Linked DNA regions of Homo sapiens. The protein of the gene in region 4 purifies or fractionates together with the protein of the main gene of each other region. This does not show direct contact. Each region holds a gene or a part of one and is shown on either strand. Other genes may lie near its edges.

Region 1 (7,939 bases), on a different chromosome or scaffold from region 4:
TCGACATATCAGAGGTTTCAAATGTCATGGAGTGGTGAATCCAAAAACTGAACAGTCCACTGATGGACAGCCTATATGTGTTTCCTGAGCAGAAGTAATTCCACTTGGAAGTTAGAGTACCTAATATTGCTCTATAAATAGTTTTATTCAAAAACATTATTCTGTGCTTTCCAATCGAAACAACCAGGCAATTCCAAGCAACATTAAATACTAACTGCACACATGTTAACTAGAAATACACCACTTTAGAGTTACAATGACGTATATGTTAACATAAATGAGTTTAAATACTTGTAAAATATATTGATATTTCATTAAAACACCACCTTCTAAGTCCATTCTTCCCTATAATTGAAAGTTTATACTTTTGTGCAAACTGAGTTCCTGAGAATAATGTAGTTTGTAATCACAATTTCCAAAGAGCCAGAATACAACTTTGAAAATATGTCTATGTTACAGCACAGTTCCCGTTTAGATTTGGAAAGGCCAGATCTCATAAAATATGACCTCCACACATGCTGACAAGAGCTTCCTCCAGGGAAGCCCACCAGTAATGCCTGGTGGAGAGAGGTGGCTGCACAATGGCCCCCAGGGCCCCCGCCCTCAGACTAATCTTCTAGGTCCCAGGCCAGAGGCCAGTGGGACCACATCTTCCCAGCAAAACCAACTTTCCCTCTGCTTCCTCTTCCCAGTCACACTCACAGGTGGTGCACCAAGTTGAACCTGACAGTGGAACTGTGTGGGTTTCAAGATCGAGTGATCAGAAAGGAACGGTAAACAAGCTGGGTGCAGTGGCTCACGCCTGTAATCCCAGCACTTTGGGAGGCCGAGGCAGGTGGATCACCCGAGGTCAGGAGTACAAGACCAGCCTGGCCAACACTGTGAAACCCCTTCTCCACTAAAAATACAAAAATGAGCCGGGCATGCTGGTGCGTGCCTGTAGTCCCAGCTACTCGGGAGGCTGAGGCAGGAGAATTACTTGAACCCAGGAGATGGAGGTTGTAGTGAGCCAAGATCATGCCACTGCACTCCAGCCTAGGCAACACAGTGAGACTCGTCTCCAAAGAAAAGAAAGAAAAGGTAAACAAAATATTCAGATTTTAACATGCACCAAAGACCTCACTTTCAAAGCAACGGTGAAGTCAATTAATTATTCAGTTGGAAATCGTGTCACTGACAAAGGACGCTAGAAAGCAAATACTCTTAATTTACTGATACTATAAGTAACCAAGAATGGTGGTTCCCACGGAAATAAAGCATCACAGGCTGTCCTTGATCTCAGGACCTCTTTCTACTGCTGCTCTCACAAGATACCGTGTAACATTTCACTACAGAGTAATCCAACAGAAGCCCTCTAAAGAATATTGCAACTTAAGTTTTATTTGTAAACAAAATTCCAAATTCCAGTCACCAATCTGGCAGAGTAGAGTAGGAGGCCTGGAGGCCTCACTGTGGAACACTTTCATTTGTTTCTTCGTATAAATATCAGCTTTATCAGCCCCAAAGATTAGAAATTACTGGTTCGAACTGAACAGTCCTAGCCCAGTGACGCAAATGACCCAAGGATAAGGTTTTCATAGGTTTGGCCTGAACATACGCATTTCCTCCTCCTACTCAGTGGTTTTAGGTGAGACAGTCTGAGGGTCTTGACCGGCACACCCGTTAGGGAGAGATGAAGTAAAAGAGTTTCACGCTGCACTTTTACCTGTCTTTAGGATCCTAATTATCGTTAAATGGTTTAATCAAATTTTTGTCCTAAAAAAGCATAATAGGTTAGCTGACCAATGATTAAAACATTATAGATCCGGAACGAACTAGAGAAGGCATGCAAAATTCAGATGAGAAAGTTTCTAAGTGATAGCTCCAGCTACCCCTCCAAATATCACAAAGGTCTAGCAGAATTGGAATTAAAAAAAAAAAGTCCTCTTGCACGGTTTATTTAAAATAAAGCCTTAACCTTAAAATTCCCTTGAAGGTGTTACAGCAAAGTAGGTATTCAGGCTCTGACCAACAAGGGGATGTAGACAGGCTGTCACCCAGGAGGGGCCGTTAGAGCTGGGCTCCCTGGGGATGCAAGGGGGTCCCACGGGGCAGTGGGCGAGGCAGATGCAGAAAGCACACCCAGCTGCCCCCACAACGCAGAGAAGCGTGGGGTGGGGAAAGGGAACTAATTCCACACTGCCTCCGGACCCCAAAGGCGAGGTGCGGGGGCGGGGGCGGGGGCGGGGGCGGATATCCCAGTGAGTGCTGCAGGAAATGATATCCAGACTCGGAGGGTGGATCTAGGAAGCCGCCAGGGCGAGGGCCCGGCGGGGGGGAGGGGGTGGGAGTGGGAACGTAGGATGTGGCTCCAAGGGGCAGGATGAGGGGGCGGGACGATCGAACGCGGATGTCGAGCCTAGGGAGGGCAAGGAGGGATGAAAAGCTAGCGGAGGGACGAGGGTGCAAGGAGCGGCTGGAGAGAGATGGGCTGCGGGCCTGGGGGCGCTGCCAGAGCGAGAGGAGGCGAAGCCCACGAGCTGGGTGGGCAGGAGGGCGGCAGGGTCTGTCCGGGCGGGGATGGGCGGGCGTGGGGATGCGCGGGCTGGGGCGCGGGGGTCGCAGAGCCGCAGGTCCGGCCCTGCCGGCGCGCACTTACCCCACTCGAGGAACTCGGCCACGTACTTGTCGCGGCGCAGGGCCGAGTGGCTGCACTCGGTGTACAGGCAGACGAGCACGTCGAGCAGCGTTTCCACGCTCAGGGCGCTCTCGTTGCGCCAGGGCCCGTCCAGGAGCAGCTGCTCCAGCTTCTTGAGCCGCACCTTGGCCGACATGGTGCCGCGCGGCCCGCTCCCGACGCGCCGGCCTCTCACCGCCGGCTCGGCCAGTCCGTCAGGGCGCGCCCTCGGGGGCTCGGCGGCTGCGAGCCCCGGCAGCAGCGGCGCCTCCTCGCCGCCCCGTCCGCGTCGTCGCGCCCCGGCCTAGGCCGACATCTTGGGCTCCGTCCCGACGGCGCAGAGTCTGGGGCGCCGGGCCCCGCGGGTCCATGGGCCGCTCTCCTCCCCTCGGCGCCGCCGCCCTCCCAGCTCGGGCGGCCCGCCCCCGCCGCCCTCAGCCCCGCCCGCGGCCGCGCCCTCCCCGCCGCCGCCGCCGCAGACTAGGAGCGGCGAGGAGCCTAGCGCTGCGCAAGCCCGGCCGGCGCCCGAGCCCGACCCCAGCCCCGACCCGGCGGCCCAGCCCCGCGGCCCGCAGCCAACCAGGGCGCGGCCAGCACCAGCGCAGCCAACCACTACGGGGCCGGCCGCCGCCGCGCTGACCTCAGCGCGCCGCCCCGCCCCGCGCCCGGCTCCCTGCTCCCGGCGGGCTCGGGCCTCGCCGCTTGCCGTAGGGAGCCGGGATGCTGGGAAGGCAGGGCCGGGCCTGGGGAGCGGCGCGGGGTGGGGGTGGGGGGGGCGGGGCGGGGCGAGTGGGCCGCTGAGATTGCGGAGCCCGCGCATGCGCAGAGCGCGCCTGGTGGGCGTGTGCGCCTTCGCCCTGCGGACCCGGTGCCTTCAGTATTCGGGGTCCGACCGCGCGCGTCGCGGATCCCGGGGCCGAAGACGACCCCAAGTATCGGAGAGGCAGAGTCGCGATCTCAGGCCGTCGAGCCCCGTCCCGCAGTCCGCGGGCCCATGTTGCCTGCGGGGCCTCGGACCTGCCCGGCCGAGGTGGGGGTCGAGGGCGGCCCGGCAGGCGCAGCTCTGATGGCCTCGGCGGGTTGTGGGCTATTTAAAACGGCTTGTCCCAGCTCGAAGCGGTCCTGGAAGACTCGGGCCCTACCCCTGACTTTACCGATGAGAGACTGAGGCCCAGACGGTGTGGGGTCAGGGCCCAGGCTTCTGGGGGATGCTGCCAAGGCGGGAGCCAGCGTCCCCAGTGCCCGGTGGATTCGTGATGGCTTGCAGAGGGTTTCAGTTTCCACTGTCCAGCCCTCCCTGCAGACCAATGCCTAGGTGTGACAGTTTGGTAGGAAAGGGGCCGGATATTTGTCTCCAGGCTGGGTTTGCCTAGCGAGTCGCTGCATTTACTAAGATTGTTGGTTAATTTGGGTGGCTGGGGGAGGGAGGCTGATGGAGATACCCCCCAACCCCAACAAACCCTTGGCGTCAGGAGAGGAGGGGCTTTTCCTGGAGCTTGCGGAAGGTCACCGAAATCGTGGGGGTATCTGAGAGCTTCTGGGGCGCGCGGGTGCAGGGGAAGGGGTCATGCTTCCGTGGAAGCGGTGGCCTCCAGGTGGAGCCGATGAAGGGGCAGATAGGGGTTTGAAGCAGGACGTTAAGGGAGCCTGAAGCAAAACTAATCTCTGGAGCTAAAAATAGGAGTGGGCCTGGCGCGGTGGCTCACACCTGTAATCCCAGCACTTTAGGAGGCCGAGGTGGGCGGATTGCCTGAGCTCAGGACTTCGAGACCAGCCTGGGCAACACGGTGAAACCCCGTCTCTACTAAAATACAAAAAACTAGCCGGGCGTGGTGGCGCGCGCCTGTAGTCCCAGCTACTCGAGAGGCTAAGGCAGGAGAATTACTTGAACCCGGGAGGCGAAAGTGCAGTGAGCCAAGATCGCTCCACTGCACTCCAGCATGGGCAACAGAGCACGACTCCGTCTTAATAATAGTAATAATAATAAGAAGAAGAAGAAGAAGAAGAGGAGTGGCTGCCTATGCCGGAGTTGTTGACTGGAACAAGAGGAGGAACCTTCTGGGCTGCTGGTAATGTTCTATGCCTGGATTTGGGTAGTAGTTACATGGGAGCACGCATAAGTAAACATTCTTCAAACTGTCTTCTTAAGATGAGTGCATGTCACTGTGTGTATGTATATATAATACCTTCATTTCTTAAAGGCAGGTGAGAACAATCTGGCGTTAGAGGTGAGAGTACTGGTTGCCTTTGGGGTATCAACTGGAAGGAGGCACAAGGAGAGGCCTCTAGGGGGCTGGGAACATTCTGTATCTTCAGCACAGCCGTTTTGTAACGTTGGGTCTGTAAATGTGTATAAATTCATCAAACTGTATTCTAAATATTTGCATGTTACTATTTGTGTATGACACCTTAAAAGTTTTTTTTAAAAAGTCTGAGCAGATCACCTGGCTCAAAATCAAAGTTAAATCTTCCCCCTTGGACCCCTTAGGGCCTGAGATGAGCAAGGGGAAAGGGGGCTGTGCCTGGTGCCATCTCCTTCCCCAAACCTCCCTCGGCTCGCTCAGCCCACTTCCACCCATCTAGAACCACCACCGGGAAGGGAGAAAGGGAGAAGTGGGGAAGGGCTCCAATCCCATCTGGATTGGCAGAGGGTAAAGCTGACCCTGTCTCTCCTGGGAACATTCATGGGCTCCTCGGTGGTTCCCTGCTGCTTTGTCTCCTGAAGTCCCCTTAACTCAAGCAGATGTGCCACTGGGTGGATGCTTACCTGGTGGCTGTGGAGGGGAGGGGCCCTCTGCCCTTCCTGAGGGACTTTTGGACAGGACCTAAATGGATCCATGGGTCTTGTGCTTGCTCATCCACCCAGCTCACATCTGTCCTCAGGAAACACTGGCACACTCCTCGCCCCAACATTAGTGAACAGGTGGGTCCCAGCACAGCAGCATAGCTCTGCCTCTGAAACAGCACATGAGCCCTTCCTGCCACTGTGCCCTCCAAATTGAGTGCCAAATATTGAGCTCTCTGAGAAATCCCTTGGAAGCCACCCTCACAGGCTTAAAGTGAAGGAAGGAGTGCCTGTCCTCTGTGTCCCCTGGCAGGATCACCTGACCAAACTTTCTCTTCCACTCTCATCTTTTATTCCTGAGTGTGGGACAGATTCCCAAACATTTCTCTTGACAATCTGCCCATGGCGATCTGACATAGCATTTGAGAATTCCACATCTGCTCTCTCTTCTTGCCTCCTGGAAATTTCCATTTACTGTTCTTATACATTTACAAATGTACAACAAAGGTCATCGTGCCTTTGGTGGACAGTCCTTGTATTCGTCTGCCCTCGCTTTCTCTCTCTCCTGAGCCCCATGCCCTGTGAGTCTGTGCTCCAGCTCCACTCTGATCATAGGATTCTAGAGGGGCTGGCACCAGGGTGGACATGTGACCCAAGACCCTAGCAGCACTTCATCCCCCTTCAGTCATGTGACTGAAGCCAGGCCAATCAGAGAACTTATTTGTTTATGTATTCATTTATCTATTTATTTTTTAGAGACATGGTCTTGCTCCGTCATACAGGCTGAAGTGACTTGGCACAATCATAGCTCACTGCAGCCTTGAACTGCCAGGCTCAAGTAATCCTCCCATCTCAGCCTCCACAGTAGTGGGGACTACAGGTGTATGCCACCACATCTGGCTAATTTAAAAAAATTTTTTTAGAGAAGGAGTCTTGCTATGTCGCCCCGGTTGGTCTTGAACTCCTGGTCTCAAACAATCTTGCTCCCTCAGCAGATAACTTATTTAGAATGTTTTATACTGGCTGGGTGTGGTGGCTCACACATGTAATCCCAGCATTTTGGGAGGCCAAGGCGGGCAGATCATTTGAGGTCAGGAGTTCGAGACCAGCCTGACCAAAATGGTGAAACCTTGTCTCTACTAAAAATACCAAAAATAAAAATAAAAAATTAGCTGGGTGTGGTTGTGCACACCTGTAATCTCAGCTACTTTAGAGAATGAGGCAGGAAAACTACTTGAACCCAGGAGGCAGAGGTTGCAGTGAGTCAAGATGGCGCCACTGCACTCCAGCCTGGGTGACAGAGCGAGACTCCATCTCAAAAAGAAAAAGAAAAAGAAAAAGAAGGCCGGGCGCAGTGGCTCACGCCTGTAATCCCAGCATTTTGGGAGACCGAGCTGGGTGGATCACTTGAGGTCAGGAGTTTAAGACCAGCCTGGCCAACATGGTGAAACCCCGTCTCTACTAAAAATATAAAAATTAGCGGGGCATGGTGGCGCATGCCTGTAATCCCAGCTACTTGGGAGGCTGAGGCAGGATAATCACTTGAACCCGGAAAGCGGAGGGTGCAGTGAGCAGAGATTGCACCAGTGCACTCCAGCCTGGACAACAGAACAAGACTCCATCTCAAAGATAGTAATAATGATAAATAAAATAAAAAATAAAAAGAATGTTTCATACTAAAACTGGGAGAGAGAATTTCTTGTCCTTTCCTTTAGACCAGGGGCGGGTAAACTTTTTCTGTAAAAGGCCAGAGAGTAAATGTTTCAGGTTTTATGAACCCTACAGTCTCTGCATCTACCATTATAGCAAGAAAGCAGCCATAGACAATGTAGAAACAAATGAGCATGACTGTGTGCCGGTAAAACTTTATTTACAAAACAAGCAGCAGGCTAAATTTGGCCTGCAGACCCGTAGCTTGCTGCTCCTTGCTTTACAACACAAGCTATGATGGTGAGACTTCAGCTCAACAGCCACAACACCTGTTAGAGAAAGAAAGAGAAAAATGAGAGAGAGATCTGGTTACATGAAACAATAAATTTTCCTTTTCTCTTGGCCAGGTGTAGTGGCTCATGCCTGTTAATCTCAGCATTTTGGGAGGCCAAGGCGGGCAGATTGCTTGAGCTCAGGAGTTCAAGACCAGCCCAGGCAACGTGGCAAAACCCCGTCTCTACAAAAAATGCAAAAATTGGCCAGGTGTGGTGGCGTGTGCCTATGGTCCCAGCTACTTGGGAGGCTGAGGTGGAAGCATCACTTGAGCCCAGGAGGCAGAGGTTGTAGTGAGCCAAGATCACACCACTGCATTCCAGCCTGGGTGACAGAGCAAGCAAGACTCTGCCTCAAAAAGAAAAAGCAAATTAATTTCTGCTTCTAGCCTAGATGGTGTGATCAGGACCAGATTTACTCTCTTACCTGAAACAATGAAAATAAAAGAGAAAGAAAATGGACAAAACACTTAAAACAAGGATTTTCATGACACTAGAAATCAGGCATCAAAGGAC
Region 2 (7,260 bases), about 120 Mb from region 4:
AAAATATGATGTGGGGTAAAAAATCCATCTTAGTGAAATATTCCACAGAAAGATGTTTTGTTTAAATTACGTGCATGCTAATGCTGGCCCTGTTTGCCCAGGCCTAACTACATATGGTTTTTACATCAACAACATAATCAATACTGAGGAAAAGCATTAAGAATGACTTTTTTAAAAAACTGTTATCAACAATGACAACATTTGGGAGACGAAGTAGAAGGGAAAAGGAAGAAGAGATATAAAGATAAGACAGCCGTAAGAAAGAGAATCTTACAACAAGAGGAAGGATTTGCTGGCCACATCAATTCCTGTTGTCTAGATCTTCGGCCCTGGCAGTCAGTGTATATCCCAATGCTGTTAAAACACAGCAGATATTCTTTACTGGAGATCTCAACTGCGCAGATAGCATCCATTGGTTGATGTGCAATAAATGATAGTGTATGGTCATTTGAATGGAGCATACTGTATGGATTTCCTTCTCCATTCAAGGGGTATCTTAGAAATCCTGACTGGAATCCCACACAGAGTTGTTCACTGAAGATTGCCATCCACTGGACATTATATGGGACTTGAATTTCTTTAAATTTTCTGTGACGGGTCTTGCTCTGAAATAGTTCATAACAGAGGACCTGCCTTTTCATAGCCACACACAGGCATGTGAGAGCTCCATGGCGCACCTTTCCAGAAGTTACGGTTTGACACCCTTTAGTTTCTGACAGCTTGTAAAAATCGGTCTCTCGCCCATCCAATGCTGACATAGGAAAAAGTCGTACATGACGATTTCGTCCTGAGATCACAGCAACAAGCTGATCATTTGGAATGAGTTCAATCTGATGAATCTTCTTATTGTCACCAACTCTAATAATTTCTAAACACAGAAAGAATAATAAATCAAAATATAGTTTTATTGATTAATCATATCCCAATTATACTCAAAAGGATGTAAGTCAACTTACAGATGCACATACGGAAGAATAAGACATCAGAAGTCACAGGAAAAAAAGATTATCCAACCCATCATAAGATAATTTAACTCACCTATAGTACGTATTAAATTTGAGTCCTGAGATTTCTGGCAGCCAAGGCAAACCCCAAAGGATTCTTGTGTAAAAGTATGCCAAATCTTCAAGGAAACTTTTCTACTGGCACTAAATTCTAGGGAACGTCACCATAGGATTCCCATTTTTAAAAACAGAGAACTTATTTTTCAGAAGTTTTTATATGGCTAACAATGCATTGTTTTCCCATGATCTAAGTTGACATAAAGATAAAACTTAGAATACTGTATTTATGAATACCAAGTTATATTGGTTTCTCTTTATTTCACCCAGCATTTAGTTTTTCCCTAGAAGAAAAACCTCCAAACAAACACATTTTAATAGCTGTTGCCTCTTCTGGTACTAATAGAACAATGTGAAAATCAAGTTGTATATATTTTTTTTCATGTTCCATCTTTAGAAATGCAATCTGGGCTGGGCGCAGTGGCTCATGCTTATAATCTCAGCACTTTGGGAGGCCAAGGCGGGTGGATCACCTGAGGTTGGGAGTTCGAGACCAACCTGGCCAACATGGAGAAACCTCATCTCTACTAAAAATACAAAATTAGCCGGGCGTGGTGGTGCATGCCTGTAATCCCAGCTACTGGGAGGCTGAGGCAGGAGAATCTCTTGAACCCAGGAGGCGGAGGCTGCAATGAGCCGAGTTCGTGCCACTGCACTCCAGCCTGGGCAGCAAGAGTGAAACTCTGTCTCCAAAAAAAAAAAAAGAAATGCAATCTGAGTTCGTACAGAACTGTTAAATAAAATGATACAAGAAAGACAATACATATTTGAAGTTTTAAACCTCAGGGGGATTATAGAAATTTAAAAATAATCTTTTAATTTATAAACGTCAAATTAGGTCTGGAAAATTTTAGTCGCAGGATAAATAAGAGCAAATCCTGCTCTTTGTAGAATTTAGAATCTACAGTTTAAATTTTTTTAACACGATTTAAAATTACTCCAAAAAAAAAAAGTTTTCTCTTACCATCTTTGGTGACATGTACAACAAATAACCCTTCTTCGTTTCCCAAAGCAATTCTTTCATGATCTATGTAAGACATGAATGTGAAAGATTTTTATTAGGAAAAAAACCATGTAATGCTAATAAACCAGATGATAAGAACATTTGGTGCAAAAAATGGAAATAAAATGAATTACAATAACAGTTTACACTATTTCCTTTCAGATTATACTGGTAAATCTCTCATGTCTTCTAAAATAGAACAATTATTAAAGAATAATCCATATCAATACTTACAAAAAGAAGTAAATGTTTAATAAATGATGAAACAAAATGAAAAACCTAAGTTGTTCTACACTTATTGTTTTGGGAGGTAAAAATTGTGAATGGCATTTGAACCATACTCATTGAACTTTTCAGTATTTATGGAAAGTAACAAAAGAGTTAGATGCATACACAGGAATACAGCAAAAATTTAAACCTCCAGACACAGAAACTGCCATTTGTTAAGGGGATTTCTTTCTTATGCAGGGCACTCTGTGTTATGTATTCCATCTTATTTAAACTTCCCAATAACCTCAGCAAGGTAATTACCATCTGTATTTTATATATTAAACTCTAAGAAACTAACTTGTTCTAAATCACACAAGCAGAAAATAGATTAGTAGGCTAATGCTTAGCACTGTTGTTTTTTCAGGAAAAAAAAGGCACTTTGAAAGTGTATTTATACTCCTGTTTACTGAAAAACAAAGATCTGATATAGGTCTCATTCATTCAGTAAACATGTACTGAGCATTTATGATATGATGCACAGTATGTTGGACACTGGGGATTCCTAGATGAAAGCCAATCCCTGTTCTCAAGGTAGATTAGTAAACAATGATAATAATATGATAAATGTTATAAATTCATACCTATGATTGCGGCTGCCTGGGTTGTTTTAATGAGGGGTAGAGTGCTGTCATAAGCCTCTTTGGGAACATAGACTGAGCGGTCTCTGAATTTGTTTTTCTTCAAAATCTTGTGCAATTCACTCAGCACTCCCACCCACTTATTCTTCTCATTCTCAGTGTCTGCTAGCATCAGGATTGAACATTTGTTATTAGATGCTGAGAGCTGGGAAGCTGTGACCTAGAACAATTTAATCAATATTCATGATATTAGAAAACAGACACCCTTTATGCTAGTTTCATGATTATGTTAGTTTGCTTAGCACTCACCAATAAAATAAGCATTCATTAAATGATACCATTACTGGAGTTCAGCTATTCCTAATCAGAATAACTACCTTTAGCACTAGAATACATGACAAAGCAAAGGTGGCAGACACCATTTGAAATGTTAGTATCATTTTCATTTTCCTTCTGTAAAAGTGCCAGAACACTATCACTAAAGAGGCATTAAATATATAACAACAACAACAACAACTGACATTTATTGAGTAAATACTGAGCACCAGGTAGATCTAAGCACTTTACAAGTATTAACTCATTTAACTCTGTTAACATCGTCATGATTTAGGATGTACTGTCATTATATCCTTATTTTATATATGAAAAAAATGGTGATGCAAAGAAATTAAATCATTTCTCCAAGGACATACAACTACAAGTCTGGGATCTTGTGCCCATGCTCTTAAGCGCCACACCATACTGACTTGTGACTTGTTTTAAGGTCAGAAGTGCTCAGAAATATATTCTCTGTTACTTCACAACAATAACTCGCATTATCATTAAGATTTGACCATTTAAATTAATATTTAAATGAAGGTTTATCATTATACAAACAACACTATCAGAGCAGTTTTAAATTTTACCTATATGAATTCCTTATCATAAGTAAAGAATTCCTTATTAAGTAGCAGTGACAATAAACTCACACTATGAAAATCAGTTATAGATAAGTGGGCCTCTGTAGGCTCCCTTGGTGGCTGGGAGGAAAATAAATAGTTGTCAGTCTGGGAACTAAGAGACTAAGTATAATCTTTGCCTGACCTTCCTTAGATACAAGATTCATAGACAAATATAGGGAGATAGGCATAACAATTGGGCAGTAGTTTTTTTTTTTAACCTCTATTGTCTTAATTTACCCACTCAAGATTGCATCGTGGCAAGGGCCTCCAAAGACGCCTACCAACAAGTCCTCCTAAGGAATTCCATTCTTCTCATCAAGAGGTGGAGTCTATTTCCCCTCCCCTTAAATCTGGGCTGACCTCATGACTTGCTTTGACCAACAGAATGCAGAAGGGTTATTATACCTGTTTTGGGCCTAGTCCTCAAAGGGCCTGGCAGCTTATTTTGCTCTCTTAGAAGCCAGCCACTGGGAGCTCAGCCAGCCTACCTGACGACCAGAGACCACATGGAGGGAGTTCACAAAGAGGAGAACTGAGATCACCCAGCTAACAGCCAGCACCCAGATGTAAGAGCAAGGTCATTAGATGTTCTGGTCCCAAATGAGCTGAATGCAGTCACATCAGTGACACTAGCGGACACCACAAGAACTGTACAGCTGGTCCACAGAATAGTGAAAAATAGTAAATCACTGTTGGTTTAAGCTACTAAGTTTTGGAATGGCTGTTACAAAGCAGTAAGTAACAAACGCATTAATTTTTCAAGACAGACATTTTTATTTTTTTAAAAACTTGAGAAACCTCACACTTATCTAATTTTCCATGTGGTAGTATTTATTTAAAAATTGAATTGGAACTAAAAAATATTATCTACCAGGAAGCATATTTTATAAGCCATATATTGATGCTTTCTCCAGGTCTTTCACTAATTAAATACTTAGCACCAATTTTCTATACCTTCAAGTACTGGATGATATGGAATATATAAAAGAATATAAGATTTGGTTTTACTTATAGTGAATTTATGATTTATATAGGGAGGCAAAATATACTCATTAAAAACACATAATTCAGTGATCAAATTACAGCATACACACTTACCCTAAATATACAGGGTATATCTTTCCGACTTGCATGGATAACATCAGAAGCCAAGACTGAACTCACAGAAAATTCTTCATCCCTGAACGAAAAGCAAAGCATTAAAAGTTACTATATGTGGCTATGTGTGTGTGGTTTGGGGTGTGTATCCAAATAACACATACCCAAAGCTTAACTGCACCAAACACCCAAATTTAATTTTTTAAAAAAATTAATTTTCCCCCATTGTAATTAATAGTGCCCCAAATAATTTATCAAGAATAACTTCCTAGTGGCACATTATACAAGAGCTAGAAATCATTGCTGGCTTACCCACAGTCACAAGGCCAGTTAAGTATACACGTAGAACTGGGATTTGAACCCTGGTAGGTCTCTGGAGCCTCCAGTGGACCCTCTTGCCTCCCATAATAAATCTTAAGTACCCTCAACCCAGCTCATGTTATATTTTATTGTTCCTTCAACATCTACAACGTATTTCCTCCACAATAATTTCTTGTGATTCCCTTAATTTTGTTGTTGGTACCATGACTCCCTTAGTCTTACAGGCTTGACACCTTAGTCCTATTTGTGATTCTTTTCCCTATCTATATTCAGTCCCTTAGTAGGTTCTATCAGATTTTTCTTGCCAATATTTCTTGCATCTATCCTGTCATGTTCCATATTTGTAGGGGAAGATAATGCGTTTGAGATGCCAATGTGAAGTGCCAATTTGAGTCACAGCTAGAAATTCCGGTTTTGAGCAATGGATGGATATATCTGAACTGGAGATACAAGTCTGGGAGTCATCAATGCAGAGGAGATGGCTGAAGCTGTGAGTAAATATGATCACTCAAGGATAGTGCCTGGAGTTAGGAGAAAAGGTAAAGGAGAGAGAACTAAGGAACACAGGAAGAATCTGAAAAATGAGACCAGAAGTGTTCAAGGGCTGTACTTACTTAAATGTTTACTGATTATGTTTTCCAGAAGCCTTTCTGATTTTTATTTTCTTTCCTCACATTGAAATTATACTCTAAGCCTTTAGGTGATGTGATAATATAAACTTCACATGGTAGGCCTCCATTACCCCATTTACACAGGTCTTTGGGACACCAACTTCTTTTTCCTTAACTCCTAGCCCCTCACACTCAACACACATACCAACCTGTCCTATAAATACACCTTACTTCCTATTTTCAATTCTGTTTCTATAGCAATATTAGCAAATTAGAAAATACGAAATTAGTTCATTTAAATAAACCATGGCAACACAATTTTTGAAAATCAGAAACTTTAAAATTCCTATGTTGCAATGATACAAATAATTTTACCTTCAAACTCTTACCTCATGTCAATCACTTGACTAATGACAACACTGGGCTGAGATGCTTTTCCTTCAGCAATATCGTACAGAAAGAGTTTGAAGTCACACACTATAGCCAGTGCTCTCTGCCACCCTTTCTTCACTCCAGCTGGCTTAGGAATCTTAGTTTTGTTTTAGACAGACAAACAGCCAAAACAACTCAAATGAAAATATCCCTTAAATTACATATGTAATTGCATGGTGAAGACCTACAGATAATGTACACGTTTTATAAGTCTGCCATTCTGGTTGGTAAAGTAGCAGATGAGACACATATCATTAAGCTATGAGAAAATGTGAGAACACATTCTTCAAATACAGAATGACTTTTTATTCTGAGAAACATTTTAATGGTACCATTTTAACTTTCACTCATATTTCATTAAAATAACACTCATGGGTTTCTTTCTAAATAGCATAAAAGTCAAACTTGGTGTAAGATGAAGTTCAGCTTACATTGTAAATACTACCCAAGATAACAAGACTATGCCTTAATAGCTCATAATTCATAACCATATGCCACCTCTCTTGCAAGAGCAGGGGCCACAAACTCCTTTATGAAGATTTCATCACAAGATAGGAACAATATGGAAAAACTTGAGACATTTTATAACTTATTTCCATGTAAAAGCTAGGTTTTTGTTTGCAAATCATTATTCTAGATGAAATAAAATTATTAGATGAATTTTATTCATTTAATTTTCCATCAAGAACTATCCTCTTAAACTAACTGGATTTGATTTTAATTCATTAATAAATCTTAAAGGATTAATCTAAACCCAACTTAATCATACTTACCCTGACATGACCTTCATATGCTGTTCCTATTCCTTTCTGAGGATCTATACCCAGGGGACCTTTTGTCTGTTCAGGAGGAACTGGACAAGTGGTTGGAGCTTTGTTTACACAAGTTATATGGCATGAGAATCCACACACTTTTAGAGGGAAAAAAGAAACGTTTGATAAAAAT
Region 3 (7,260 bases), on a different chromosome or scaffold from region 4:
TAAGAAAATGCAACACATGGGAAAATTAGTTTAAGGCCAGTATATGATAGTAATATTCATAAGTCTGAGAAAATCCTCATGAATCATACAAAAAATGTTCAAGGATATTCATAATAGTACACAGTTTACTAAAAATATGTAGAATCCCTCCTTTTTAGACTTTACGCTTCTCAGAATAACTTAAATAACCACCCAAGGTGAAAATCTTAATTAGGCAAATTTTTCGTTTGGAGATTGCCAGTAACTATGGATGAATGAGTAAAGAAAGTTATTTTATAATAAAGTTCAAATTATCAAAAAATTGAAGTTCTTTGCATATAAATGTTGAGAAATATGTAATCTTGTACAAAGAGTAAGAATACTATTACTGCTAGATTTCACTCTGTGAATCTTGATAAATGTCATCATCAATATCAACAATGTATGAGTCCATTGGCCCAAAATGCCATCTGCCACGATCTATCCCTGCCGTCTCCCTTCCTTCCTATATGTGGTCTTCAAGTTTCAGCTTATATGTAATTTCCTTAAAGAAGCTTCACAGTTTGAAGTGTAGTCTCTGTTATGAGCACCCACAGTGTGCTACAATTTTTCTTTATATCTTGAGGATAGGAGGAGTGCCTGTTTTGTTCACCACTGTTTCCTTGGCACTCTATATAGTAGTTGGCAAATAGTAAATACTCAACTAATATTCAATTAATATACATATAAGTTGTTTTTGTTAAGTCCACATTTATCTAAACTATTGGGATCCAAATGTTATTTAATGGATTTTTATTTAGGTAATAATTTTGCTCTTCAGTTTACCATGGGCCTGTAGGGTTATACATTAAATTTGATAATTCTGTCATTTAATATAGCTATATTGCTGTAAAATAAAATGCCAAAATAAGCCACTAGGAAGTAGGTCAAATCCAAAGGTGATAACTCTTATTTTTGCTGGTTTATATTCATGGATTCATTGAATAAATATTTATCGATTTCTGATAAGTGGTGTGGTTTTTCATTATTTCATGATTATTTTAGTCTAAATGCTGAGCATTTTGTCTTCCTGTCCTAATCATTTTCCCAAGTGATTTTGTATCTACATAAGCCAAGAACCACCCTTCAATATGGACCTCAAGTTGGTTATGGCACCTCAGAATTTGATATACACATAGGCCAAATTTTTTTTCTTTCATATTTAGCAATGGAAAACTTTCTCCAAGTCCTTCTAATATAAACAAGCATGGAGGTGGAAGTAGGGACTTCACACCATGAAACATCACAGTGTCCCAATTAGTCAGACATTCAAGAGCCTGGAGATAAACAGCATCATAATGTGAAAACAGATTGTTATACTGCTGTTACTTTTGCCATTATGACCTTCATAAGCCTTTCTAGAAATGCACCTAGAGGGAAGTGGTTAGAAGACATTAAATGGAAAACATCAAGATTTTGGAATTGTATTTAGTACTATGATAGGCAGTGAAAGAACCTGTATTTAGGTTTCAACACTAGCATTTCATGACCAATTGTGGTCATTTCTCTAAGATATATTTCTCACAAGCAACTATAGGTTTCTATAGATATACACTGGCTGAAAAGGAAATAAAGTTAAATAGGAAAATATATCATCAAGAGCATAATTTGAAAAAGAAAACATTTATTATAGTTTACATTGTAAAATCTAACTGAAAAATTTAACCTAAAAAGTAAAACTCTTCATTAGTTTAATTAATTAGTAAATTAATTAACTGATTAATCCATAGTCTTGTTTTACTATTTTTCTTGTGTACAAGTTTGTTTTATGATTTTCTTCCCAGACCTATCCCCATATTTTCAAAAATACTTTAAAAAATTTAATCCTAGCTACCTTATCATTAATTACTTTCAAGTAATTGAATTATAATTATTTCTAGAAAACATTCTTATTTGCTTTTCTGATAAGCCTTAAGTTTTCTGTTTTTAATAATGGGGCACATTAGCAGTGAGAAACATTAGGATTACCCTGAATACTTCATTTTTTGTAGCAAAATTTCAGCTCAGTTACAGAAATTGTCCTGTAATTTTTCTTTAATCTCCCTTTAAATTGAAGAATTAAAAAGAAGAGATGAGACCAACAAAGAGGAAAACAGAACTTACGGCAAATGAGTAATACAGGGAACAGAGGATGTTTTAAAGAATATCATTAATACCCTTTGAGAGATAAGAGAAAATATTAAATCCACTACATTTAACAAGAGCAAAATACTATGAAAAAGGGACACAGACTAAGCGGTGTCAGAATTTTAAAATATGATTGCCATAAAGAGTAAAGAAAACCAGAAAGGTGGAAAACAATGTGAAATAACCACAAAGAAAGGAGAAGAAAAAGAAAAAGAATGAGACAATAGAGAGAAAAGATAAAATTTTTAGAAAAGCAATTCAGGAGGGGCAATAGATGATTCATGTGCGTCTTGAGAGAACAGAGAAAACAGAACAAGAGGCCAGGAGTGGCCAGGCCCACCCAACAAACACCCACTGCACAGCAGCCATCCTGAGATTGTCCTTCACTCTTTTCCTATATTGATGCCCGTGTGCCCAGATCCTATACCTTCCTCTTTCTTGTTTCACTCTTTTCTTTTATGAGAGTAATGCAGGACAAGCAAGCCCCAAAATTGAGGCTTAGTCCTTGGCTTCACCCAGGGAAGAATTCAAGGGCAAGCCGGTGGTGTTAGCAGCAGTTTTTATTGAAGCGGCAGTGTACAGCAGCAGCAGAGGTCCTGCTCCTTGCAAAACAGGCCTACCCCATAGGCAGTGTGCCCAGAGCAGCAGCTCAGAAGCAGTTCTGCACTCACAGTTATAACCACTTTTAATTATATGCAAATTAAAGAGCAACTTATGCAGAAATTTCTGGGATGAGGGTGGTAACTTCCAGGTTGTTGGGTTTTCGCCAGGAAAATGGCGACAGGTGTGTCGTGTTGCCGTGGCAATGATAAACTGACAGGCACACTTGTGGACGTGTCTTATGGAGAGGTGCTTCTGCTTGAGACCCATTTTAGCTAGTCCTCAATTTGGGCAGGTGTCGAAGCCCTGCCTTTGGAGTCTAGTCCCACCTCCTACCTCAAGAGCACACCAAAGAAAAGGAGGTGGGAGGCCGAGGTGGGCGGATCGCGAGGTCTGGAGATCGAGACCATCCTGGCTAACACGGTGAAACCCCATCTCTACTAAAAACACAAAAAATAAGCCAGGCGTGGTGGCGGGTGCCTGTAGTCCCAGCTACCCGGGAGGCTGAGGCAAAAGAATCGCTTGAACCCGGGAGGCGGAGGTTGCAGTGAGCCAAGATCACGCCACTGCACTCCAGCCTGGGTGACAGAGCAAGACTCCATTACAAAAAAAAGAAAAAGAAAAAGAAAAGAAAGAAAGAAAAGGAGGTAAATATTTTTAGTGTTTGTATTTCTAAAAGTAGATTTATTCCATTATATAAAATTCTAGTTGAAAATGATTTTCTCTCTCTGAAGTCATTGAACAATTATCCTCCAAAATCCAATGTTGTTGTTGAAAAATCCTTCATTCGTAGATAAAGACTGTCACTCCTTTGAAGTCATCTTCTGCGCCTCCTTCCTACCCTACCACATCCTTTCTACTCCTCGCTCCAGGAACTTTTAGGATCTTCTCTTTCACCCCAGTGAGTTTGTGATGATGTGCCTCAGTGTGGGTCTTGTTTTATTTATTCTTCTAGCTACTTTTTATCTGGACACTCATGTTTTTCAATTCTGCCACACTGAAGGAAGAAAGGAAAGATTCTATCCAGAAAATTTGCAGGAAACAAACAAAAAGCTAATAGATATCTGATACGATTGAACACTTAAAAAAAAAAAGACTACTAGTGGACATATGGCAGATCTAACTGAGCACTTAGAAGCAAGATGGTCACAGAGAAAGAGCAAATAAAAAGAAATAAAATTAAAACAAGAGTCAATTAATAAACCCAGGAGGAAAAAATGAACAAGAAGAGAAATGTCATAGTATCCTTACTATGTTTTCATGAGCCATATTTAGTCATAATAATGTAAACAGTCATATAACTAAAAGCTCATATGTAACTATATTGGGAGTATGGGGTGAGGAGAAGGGGGTGGGTGTGGATAATGTCTAAAAATATAAATCAGAAAATAGCAATATAGGCTTCTCCATGTTTTACAAAAATGAAATAAATACAGAAAATAAAACTGGAAGAGGTGATCATAGCTGACTCTGGGGAGTGGGATTGTGGAATTCAGAGAGGTAGGACAAGAAACTCCTGTTTTTCTATGTAACCCTTTGGTATTATTTGATATGTGTATATACACTGGCTAAAAATGATTCTTACAAAGACAAGTGTTACTGAGAAAACCCCAGCTTTAATGTCTGACTAGTAAATGTCTAATTTTTTTGTTAAGTCTCAGGTGGAACATGAAAGCTGGGGTTTGGAGTTTGGAGCAGTTTAGATCTGTATAGAGATATAGGGAGTGGATAGTCATAGGTCCTTAGGCAGACATGAGTTTCTGGGCCCACAGAACAGTCAGCTCCTTACTCTAGTCAGAATTTGTACTGAGTGAGGCCCTTTCGTTGAAGCTGTAGATGCTAAGGCATTCATTCTGCTGACTTAGATGCCCTGTCAAACTGTGACCAAACTAAAGCATAGAATCATTGACCGTGGAAAAAACAAAGGAAATGGGAAAATACTGCATAATTTGTGGTCTCTGAAGTGATCCAGCATTAATGAAAGTTTGTTTTAAGAAGTAATTTATGTCAGCTTTGTGTAGTTCAGGTCAATTCAAGAAAAGGTAGATTCCTTCTGCCAGGAAGAAGGGAAGAAATGTATAAATTGTAAGTTTATATTGCCATTGGAAATAGGAACACAGAAATCCATTATTTAAAGGCATGATCACTACCAAATTTATCCTGGCCTGCTGGAAGTTATGGCCGTGAGTCAGGACACTCTTTTAGAAGACTTGGATTCCATTACCTTCAGCCTGTAGACAGTGGGGGCTTAGTAAGGGACTCATAATGTCAGCTTTTGAAACTGTCATTTTTGCTTTTCAAAAGTGGCAACTGACCACTAGTCACTATGTATAGCTCCTTTTAGACTAAAGGAACACAACTCCAGGATACAGCCATCACATCCCAGGACTGGGACCAGACCAGATTTCACTGAGGTCCATAGTAATCTGATGACTTCTAGAAATCTCTAGTTTTTTAAGACTAAAATGTTTCATCTTTGTGGAGTTGGTGTCTCCAAACCAGATTTTAAAAATAAATGCAGATTGTAAATTTCCTGTAAATCTAAAACTGTTTGAAAACATAATGTTTGTTAAAATAAATAAGCCCAAAAGGAAGGAATTGTTATTCTTCATGGGGAAAATATGTTATCTAAGGATTAGTATAGGAGTTGAAAGTGAATCTTACAGATAATTTGATATTCTTAGAAAAGCAGATTAATGAAAGATGCTTAAAAATACTATTTCACTTTCTTACCTCAGTTTACATTGCTATAAAAAGAAAAGTTAGTATTCTCACTTTGTGTTTTGAGGTGCCTCTAATGGTAGTTTAAGTCCGTGGGGTGAAAAATAATTTATCCACAGCAAGAATAGCACACTATTTTCACTTCTGTGTTATACTTCAAGGTCTACCCGGCTAACTGTGAAAAGATGCTTCATATGTAACCTGTCCTCAGCCTTATAGAGTAAAATGCCAAAGATTAATGGCAATGAAAACACTAGGACACTGATAAAGGCAATAAAATTGTTTCTTGTCCATTAAAGGATTTAATTCTATGAAAGTGCAGTCTCTCTGTCTCTCTCATTTTACAGGTTTATTTTATGTGATTACAGATTTATTTTATGTGACAGTGGTTCAGGTATTTTTTACTGATCGGTTAAACGCCGGATATTTTTAAATAATTGAATTCTGGTTTTTGCAAGTTGACAAGGTACTCTCTAGAGGCGCTCCAGAAACCAGCTAGAAAATCCCCAGTTGGCTGTCATCTTAAAATCCCTCACCTATATTCAGTTGTTCAACCAGTATTTACTAGGAGGCTGTGTACCATGTCCAGTGTTCAGTTCTGGAGTATACAGCAGTGAACAGGACAGGCAAGGTGATGTCATGGAGAAACAAGTAGCGAGCAAGTAAACAAATCATTTAAAATGGTGATTGGTGCTATAAAGGTGAAATGATAGAAGGTACCAGGAACAGGAGCACTCCTTTAGATTGGTGATCAGGATCTGCCTCCCTGAGGAGGTTACAGCTGAAACCTGAATGGCAAGAAGCAGCAGCTGAGTTGAAATTGGATGGGAAGCATCTTCCTGATAGTAGGGGCAAAAAGTACAAAAGCTCCAGAGAAGAAAGGGCCATGGTCTCCTAGAGATACGGGCTACTGAGCGAGTGAGTGAGAGGGTGCAGCCACAGTCAGATGTGTGGATTTTATTCTGAGTTCACTGGGCGACCATTAAGGGCAGGATGAGGGAGTCATGCAGGAGAATGACGTAATTTGATTGACTTTTCCGAAAGGTAACTGTGGTTGTGGTGTGGAGAAAGGATCGTAAGGGAGCAAGAAGAAAACAGAAAGGGAGACAATGGTGACTTGGGGGCTGATGAGAGTAATGGGGATGGTGTGAATCAGGACTCAGGTGAAATTGATAGGGAGAGTCATTAGAGCTCGCTCTTAAACTGAATGGATGGATCAGACAGGACAAAGGAAGAGAGGAACCACGGTTTGAGAAACTGGGCAGACGGGTATATCATTTTTCAAGTTGGAGAAGAGTAAGGAATGAGCAGGCATCAGAGAGTAGAGATAAGGAGAGAAGATTTCACACAGACAGTTGGATATAGGCATCTATAGCTCAGACGAGGAGTAGGAGATAGTAAAAGAACAGTAAACACAAACTCCAGGTCTACTTTCAATAGACTAGAAGTTGTAATAAAGAGGATTCCATAAAAAGGAGCCCTTAAGATTTCTGCCTCTAAAATTCTTTGCGAGTGTGCAAGTGTGTGTGCGTGTGCACGTGCACACCGGTGTGGTTTATATCATTGTATCCTGACGAAGCACACATTTTTTACTCTCAGGTATTCTTCAAATAAAATAAAAAGTTTAATTCTCGTGTTTTTTTTAAATGTCATAAATTGAGTGTATTTATTCTTAGCTTGGAGGTCTGTTAGTCCATGTGAAGTTTAATTATAGAAAACTCGATCAAATACCATGATACATTAACTACCTTCTGCAAAATTAATTTTTTAGGCCAGTTTTATATTCACCTAGGT
Region 4 (7,000 bases):
TTACAGAGCAGAAAGAGCAGACCAGAGGCTTCTCAAAACCACTAGGACTTGGCACTTTCAACTCTTTACCCCTTGCCAAGAATTTGAGGTCCTTAAGGGTTGACTGTGAGGGGCAGCTAGGGTGTAGGGAGTGGGAATGTTTCCTAGAGCAGGTCCTTAGGCAGTGGGGTCCTCAAGCACCTTTTCTCCAAGCTCAGCCTTTCTCCACCTCCACACCCCCCGCCTCCCCAGTGCATGTCATCCTTTGGGGAACAGTGTAAATTTGCCATTTAGCAAATAACAGCCCATCTGGGTGGCTAGTATACAGTGTACAAAAACATGTCACCTATTGTCTTCTCTGACCCTTGCTACAATCCTGTGAGATATTAAATCAATATAAATGTTTCGACAGAAGAAGAGACCAACGCTCAGAGAAAGCACTTTTTCTTAAGCACTTTTGCCTTGGGTCACATGGTTAGTGCCTCTACTAAGGGGATGGGTTGTCCAGTATCTGCTGAGCTTCTGCTGTATTCCAGGCAGTGCTTGGACCGTAGGTGCATTATGTCCTTTAAATCTCACAGCAGCCCCACATTATCACCTTTCACAGATGAGAAACACAAGGTTCAGAGAGATCAAGCAACATGCTCAAGCTTCCACAGTGACAGAGGGGGCTCTCAAATCTTAACTCCAAGTCTAGTGCTCATACCATGGTGCTGGCAGAAGTGCCTTAACTGCACCGGATGGGGAAGGCACCTGAGGTGGGTTCTGGCTGCTCTGGAGAAGGTGGGGACAAGGTGTGCTCTTGCTCTTGTCCAGACCACGTAGGAAACGATGGTGTGACTTGGGAAAGATGGAGGAGCCTCTCCCCAACAAGGCCCTAGGGAGGAGATGGGGATGTGGAGAGGACAGAGCAACCTTCTTTGGGGCAAGTTTGGGTTCAGAGATCACCCTGAGGGGCGGGGCACAAGGGAAGTGTCTGAGGGAGAGGGAAAAGAGAGGTCCCAAGTCTGAAAGGTTGGGAAGAGAAAGGGAGGAGGGAGACCAGGCCGGCCCCACTAGCATGCCCAGCAGGGACTCTTTTCTGTTCCCTGGGCCACAAAGAAGCAGGTGGAACCTTCCACAGATACCTGGGCCAATCAGGTGGCCCTTGTACCTGCCAGGGAAGTGGGGCAGGGTGGGGTGGGGCTACATGTCAGGGAGGATATTAAATGAGCTTCTAGCTCATTTGCATGTCCTAATTAACCACAAAGTGCGCCCCAGAGGAAGAACTAAGCTCTCTGATTTCTCTCTGCTTACGTCTGCTATCTCCTCCACATACACACTGCTTACCTCTCCCTACACCTTCCTGTATACTTAGGCCCTAGGCATTTGCATTCACCTCTTCCCTCCACTTCAGTAAAATACAGCCTCTGTCATTGCCATGGCAGGTGTCCAGGGGGAAGGGAAAAGTAAGTCTCCATCAGACAGTCAGCATGCCATTTATGATCCACGCAGGACCATGAATAATATGAGAGGACAGATTTTGCTCTTGTTCCTCTTGATTTGGCTTTGGAACAGATATGGACAATTAGTGGGATCGTCTGAAAAGCACAAGATTGCAAGTCAGTTGGAACTGATTCAATCTCAATTCCACTACTGTGTGACCTTGGACAAGTTGCTTAACTTCTCTGAGCCTGTCCATGTAAAACAAGAGCAACTGCTTTCAGTGTGTAGTGAGAAGGAAGTAACAGAGGTGAAGGTGCTGGCACTTGTAAATCATGTTGGCAGCAAGTGTTGCTTCCTAATTTTTTGTTCTGGCCCAAGTTGAAACAAGTTTTCAGTCTCCCAAGTCTCTTCTGACTAACCAATGGTTCAAAGTCTGCTTATTTTCCACTGCATCCATTTGAGAGCAGGAGTTGGGTCCTTCTCATTGCTCTGTTCTTAGTTTCTATAACAACACCTGGTGCTGGGAGGTGTTCATAAAGTTCTGTTCAATTTATCCGAACCACTGTGACCAGTCCACGAAACACGTGAGTTATAGGTGAATGTCCAAGAAGTACCTTGGTTTCCCACAGACTCATTCCAGACTTGGAGCTGGTGTCATCTTGAATAATATGCTAGATGGCTTCTCCACCAGCCAGTGTCCCACGACTTCCTCCGCTCATGATTCAGTAGGTGGAATCTTAACATGCAGTTTCTTAGCACGCGCAGGCACACACACACACACACACACACACACACACACACCACCACTACCACCACCACCACCACCACCTCCACCATCTCCACCTCCAAAGGCAGTCAGAGCCAACGTTCCCTCACTCAAAACTGAAATGTTGGTATTCTCTGGGAAGACACAAAGGATTTGCAGTGGCTGGCTCCACCAGAGTGGGCTTGCTCAGTTGGCAAACTCCAGGTAGAGAAATAGCAAGAAAAGGACAGGGGTTTTGGAGCCAGATAACCCAACCCTCTGTTCAAATCTCTGTCCTTTCCTTTGCTAGCAGCCTAATCGGGGCAGTTTACACGCCCCCTAATAACCTCCATAGATGTGTCTGGAGAACAATGCCTTCTAGGGTCCTTCTAAGTTTGAGAGATGTGCACATTACCTGACAGACAGTGAGTGCTCAACAAAACCCAAAAAGCATGAGCGCCTTCCTCCCTCCTGCAGCTCCCCCACCAAAAATGAAACATCTTACCATTTGACTGGGTAGGATTTGAGAGTGACCCTAACCACCGCGGCTGCGCCCCCATAATCCCATCTTGAGCTCTGCCCCTCTCTCCACTCTCCCCAGGGATCCAGGAAGCAAGCAGAAGAGCCTTTTCTTACTATTTTGCCTCTCCAACTGGCTATTAATGCTTTGAGGGTGGGAAGGAATCCTGCCTCTAATTGCAGCTGTCACACCCCATCAGGCTGAGGGACAATCAGTGGGAGGCAGAGAGGGGCAGTGGGAGGGTGTGCCCTCCTGGCTTGGTCAGCCCAAAAGAAGATCCACATTGTCTTTTCCCAGCCAGTGAGTGTTCCCTACTGGAGTGGGAGGGACAGTGGCTTCCCAGGGCAGTCCTGGGGGGGGGCCTGGATCACTAGGTGGCCCTCCTGGGCCACGTGCCCAGAGTGGCTTTAGAGAAGCCGGAGCTGAGCTGCTGCCTGGCCCTTCCCCCTCCGTCCCGGCTGCCTCTAGGTGAGGAGGGAACAGGAGGCCTGGGACTGCTGTGTCTAGTGGGGAGAAGGCCACGGAATGGAGCTGGGAATTTTAAAATCAAGTGGCTATTTCTTCTGGGTTCACTTCTACCTCACTGGTGAATTGGCTGTTCTCTGACCCAGGTGGGAGTTAAGTGCAGGAGACAGGGGTTGTGGGGTATGGGGCCCTACGAACTGTTTTTTTTTATTTTTTTTGAGACAGGGGAGTCTTGCTCTGTCAGCCAGGCTGGAGTGCAGTGGCATGATCTCGCCTCACTGCAACCTCCCTCTCCCGGGCTCAAGCAATTCTCCTGCCTCAGCCTCCCAAGTAGCTGGGTTTACAGGCGTGTGCCACCACGCCTGGCTAATTTTTACGTATTTTTTTAGTAGAGACGGGGTTTCACCATGTTGGCCAGGCTGGTCATGAACTCCTGACCCCAGGTAATCCGCCTGCCTTGCCCTCCCAAAGTGCTGGGATTACAGGCGTGAGCCACAGCGCCCAGCCTGCGGGGTGCTAAGAACTGTTGGGGAGGAGTGTTGGTAACTCCAGGGTCCAGCTTCTACTCTGCAGTTAGACCTAGGCTGTTCTGCCTCCTGGCTGCAGTTGTTCCTGGACATGTAGCATATCTAGGCTTGTTTCCTTATCTGGAAAATGGGATCATGCCTGCCTGCCTCGCTCACTTTCAAATGAGACCATGGAGATGAAAAGGCATTCAAACAGCCCAGTGCTATGTCAACATCCTTCCCCTGTGCATGGGGGAGACGCGGGGAGTGTCTAGGGCTTCCCTGGCTGCTCCTTACACACTGTACTCCTTATTCAGCTCATTTTCTCAGAGTCCAGGTATGGACTGAAACCTCCAAGGCAGAAAGGGCTAGCAGGTCGGGTTTTGCCTCACTGCTGCTCCAGTCCCAGGAGGCCTGGGGTTCAGTCCCTGTGCCTGGAGCAATGTCTTGCCAAAGAAGCTGACAGAAGGTTGGGAGAGCCATAGACAGGTCTTTATTTGGGGGCCTATCTGGGGAACCTGATGCTCCAGGGCTCTTTTCCATACAGAATGTTCAACGGAGGTCTTTGGGGGCAGTGGAGATGTCAGAGGGATTTTCTGATCTCCTCCTCTGCCCTCACCTACTGTCACCTCCAGCCCCAAAGTGAGTGCATGCATGCCAGACAGACACACACATGCACACACACACACACACACGCACAGCTCACTCTCCAGCTACTCTTACCTCCTCCACCAGCTAGCCCCCAAGACAGCCTCTCCCAACCACCTTCCCTTCAGTCCTGAGCCAAGAACTCTGGCTTCTCCCCGCTTTCTGGGGGAAAGGAACTTGGAGTTGGGCTTTCGAGAGCCATACCGCCCACCCTCCCTCCTCCCCAGGGGCCCAGCACTGGGACCTGGCCCTTTCAGGCTCAGTCAACTTTCTGTCTCTAGGATTCAGACCCAAACAGCTGTGTTAATATCAAATCCTGAGGGTGAGTGCTCCAGGGCCTTGGGGCAGCTTGTGGGGGGATTCTCCCCTCGCCTGTGCTCCCCGGTGCCTGGGAAGGGGAAATGTCCAGAGCCCTTGGAAAGGCTCCGCTTCTTGACCTTCTGTGAGCGGCCGGTTCGGGACTCAGGGACCATGGGTGTCACCCAGCCTGGCTTCTCCTTCAGCAGCCGGTCACGGTCAGGCCGCACACTACGCAAGAACTTCTTAAAGATGTTTGCTGTCAGGGCGAACCTGCGGCCCAGCTCCTGGGGCTGGCCTTTCTCTCCTTTGGGTTCACGTGCCCCCCCAGTCTCACCCTTCTCCCCACCCTTCTCCAGTTCTGGCAAGTCTAGCCAATTGCCCACCAGGTCTGCAAAAACGTTGTCCCCTAACACCAGAGGCTGTCGATTCCGGCCCCGGGACATCAACGTGGAGGTCCAGTCATCCGGTTCCACTCGCTCTGGCCCCTGCTGAGCACAGCTTTGATGTGGCTGTGTCCTGGGCAAGGGGGCTAAATCCCTTCCACAGACACTCCTATGGGATGGAAACTTGGTGCTGCTGCCAAGAGAAGGTTGACTGGAGGGGGAACAGACTGTGGGCCTGGCAGGACCTCTGCCACCCTCCCAACAAGGGTGCTCGCACTGGGTCCTGGGACCTTCAGGGCTGCCTGGCACAGGACCCCCTCCAGAGATCTCCAGCTGTTCCAGTGCTGTCTGCACCTGGAGGAGCTTCAGTTCTTGCAGTGCACCCATCATGCAGTTCATCTGATCCTGTAAGCCATCACCCACCTCCTTCATGGACATCTGCAGGGGAGAGAGAAAGCATGGGGCCTATGAGCCACAGTGGGCAGCAGTGCCTCTCCCAGCCCTGAACTTAGGTCCCCCACCCAAACATACACTTCCAGGGTCATCCAGCCTGCCACCAGCCCCATCTCTCTATAGCCTAGTGCAGTGCAGATCAGTGCTGGGTAAAGGAAATAATAATGGTAGCTAACTAGCTAAGGCAGGCACTGTCCTGAGAAGGCTCCCCCACCCCATACACACACACACACACACACACACACACACACACAGACATTTCATCTCCCCAACTACCCTATGAGGTAGTGACTATTACTGTTCCCATTTCACAGGTAATTTGCCCAAGATAAGATAGTAAGAGGTGGGGCTGAGATCAGCTTGAAGTGCACAAAGCTGTAGTGCCCATCCTCATCCTTTTTTGAGTCTGAGCGCTCTTCCTCCCTGGGCCTCCCTGAAATGATGACAGTGATGATGGCGGAAAAAACAATATGAGAATCTGCTTTGTAACAGGAATTGTGCTAAGGACTCTATGTGCTTCATCTCATTTCATCTTTATATAGACCGTATGAGGTTGCTATTTTCTCATTTTAACAAACGAGTAAGCTGGAAGGGGTGAAGTAACTTACGTAACGTCACACAGGTCATAGAGCTGGGACTCAAACACGGTACTGTCCCACTCCAGATGCCATAGTCCTAACTACCAAATACAGGTTGAGCATCCCTACTCCAAAAATCTGAAAGCCAAAATGCTCCAAAATCCAAAGCTTTTTGAGCCACAACGTGACCAAAAGTGGAAAATTCTACCCTGACCTCATGTGACAAGCGGAAGCCAAAACACAGTCAAAACTCTTTTATGCACAAAATTATTTAAAATATTGTATAAAATTATCTTTGGGTTGTATGTATAAGATGTATATGAAACATAAATTTCATGTTTAGACTTGGGTCCCATCCCTAAGATATCTTATTGTATATATACAAATATTCGAAAATCCAAAATCCAAAACACTTCTGGCCCTAAGCATTTCAGATAAGGAATGCCCAAACCTCCTGTACTACCTCGAGACTCGAGATGGCTGGGCAGTGGGCAGTGGAGCTAGGCTTTTTTTTTTTTTTTTCAAACAGGGTCTTGCTGTTTGCTGGGCTGGAGCACAGTGGTGACTATTCTCAGACACAATCATAGTGGACGGCAGCCTCTAACTCCTGGCCTCAAGTAGTCCTCTGGCCTTAGCCTCCTGAGTAGCTGGGACCACAGGTGTGTGCTGCCTGCACCCAGAGCTGGACTTTAAGGCTACTCTGTCCTCTACAGGACAGTGAAGAAGGGCTGAAAAGGGCATTAGTGGAAAAGGAAGAGCTCAGATTCCCCAAGAGAAAGGGTAGGCCTGGGGTTTCCTGCAATTGCTGTTCATATCTGACTGGTCAGAAGGGAGACAAGGAGGCCAGGAAACTCCTGTTTGCTGAAAACCCAGCGCTTCTCAGCCTGCCTCTCCCTCCCAAACACCTGTCCTCTCTCAGCTGTTCTCAGACTTGGCTTCAACACTCTTCCTGCCTTCTTAGCCCAGTTGGCTCTGCCGCCCCGGCCAAGCCATAGTGA

Evidence for each region.
Region 1: the proteins of INKA2 (region 4) and CDC42BPB purify together in Homo sapiens (affinity purification with mass spectrometry; 3 studies listed by BioGRID and IntAct, with this or other methods). This does not show direct contact.
Region 2: the proteins of INKA2 (region 4) and CDC42BPA purify together in Homo sapiens (affinity purification with mass spectrometry; 3 studies listed by BioGRID and IntAct, with this or other methods). This does not show direct contact.
Region 3: the proteins of INKA2 (region 4) and CEP128 purify together in Homo sapiens (affinity purification with mass spectrometry; 3 studies listed by BioGRID and IntAct, with this or other methods). This does not show direct contact.

The regions. Positions count from the first base shown.
Region 1 is NC_000014.9:103,054,361-103,062,299, forward strand, and holds the start of CDC42BPB (serine/threonine-protein kinase MRCK beta), read right to left. Parts: upstream 3,190-7,939; 5' UTR 2,814-3,189; coding exon 2,639-2,813; intron 1-2,638. UniProt on the Homo sapiens protein: Serine/threonine-protein kinase which is an important downstream effector of CDC42 and plays a role in the regulation of cytoskeleton reorganization and cell migration. Regulates actin cytoskeletal reorganization via phosphorylation of PPP1R12C and MYL9/MLC2.
Region 2 is NC_000001.11:227,028,383-227,035,642, forward strand, and holds part of CDC42BPA (serine/threonine-protein kinase MRCK alpha), read right to left. Parts: intron 7,226-7,260; coding exon 7,089-7,225; intron 6,413-7,088; coding exon 6,273-6,412; intron 5,034-6,272; coding exon 4,952-5,033; intron 3,133-4,951; coding exon 2,916-3,132; intron 2,089-2,915; coding exon 2,026-2,088; intron 869-2,025; coding exon 275-868; intron 1-274. UniProt on the Homo sapiens protein: Serine/threonine-protein kinase which is an important downstream effector of CDC42 and plays a role in the regulation of cytoskeleton reorganization and cell migration. Regulates actin cytoskeletal reorganization via phosphorylation of PPP1R12C and MYL9/MLC2.
Region 3 is NC_000014.9:80,497,613-80,504,872, reverse strand, and holds part of CEP128 (centrosomal protein of 128 kDa), read left to right. Parts: intron 1-7,260.
Region 4 is NC_000001.11:111,722,396-111,729,395, forward strand, and holds part of INKA2 (PAK4-inhibitor INKA2), read right to left. Parts: intron 5,410-7,000; coding exon 4,573-5,409; 3' UTR 1-4,572. UniProt on the Homo sapiens protein: Inhibitor of the serine/threonine-protein kinase PAK4. Acts by binding PAK4 in a substrate-like manner, inhibiting the protein kinase activity.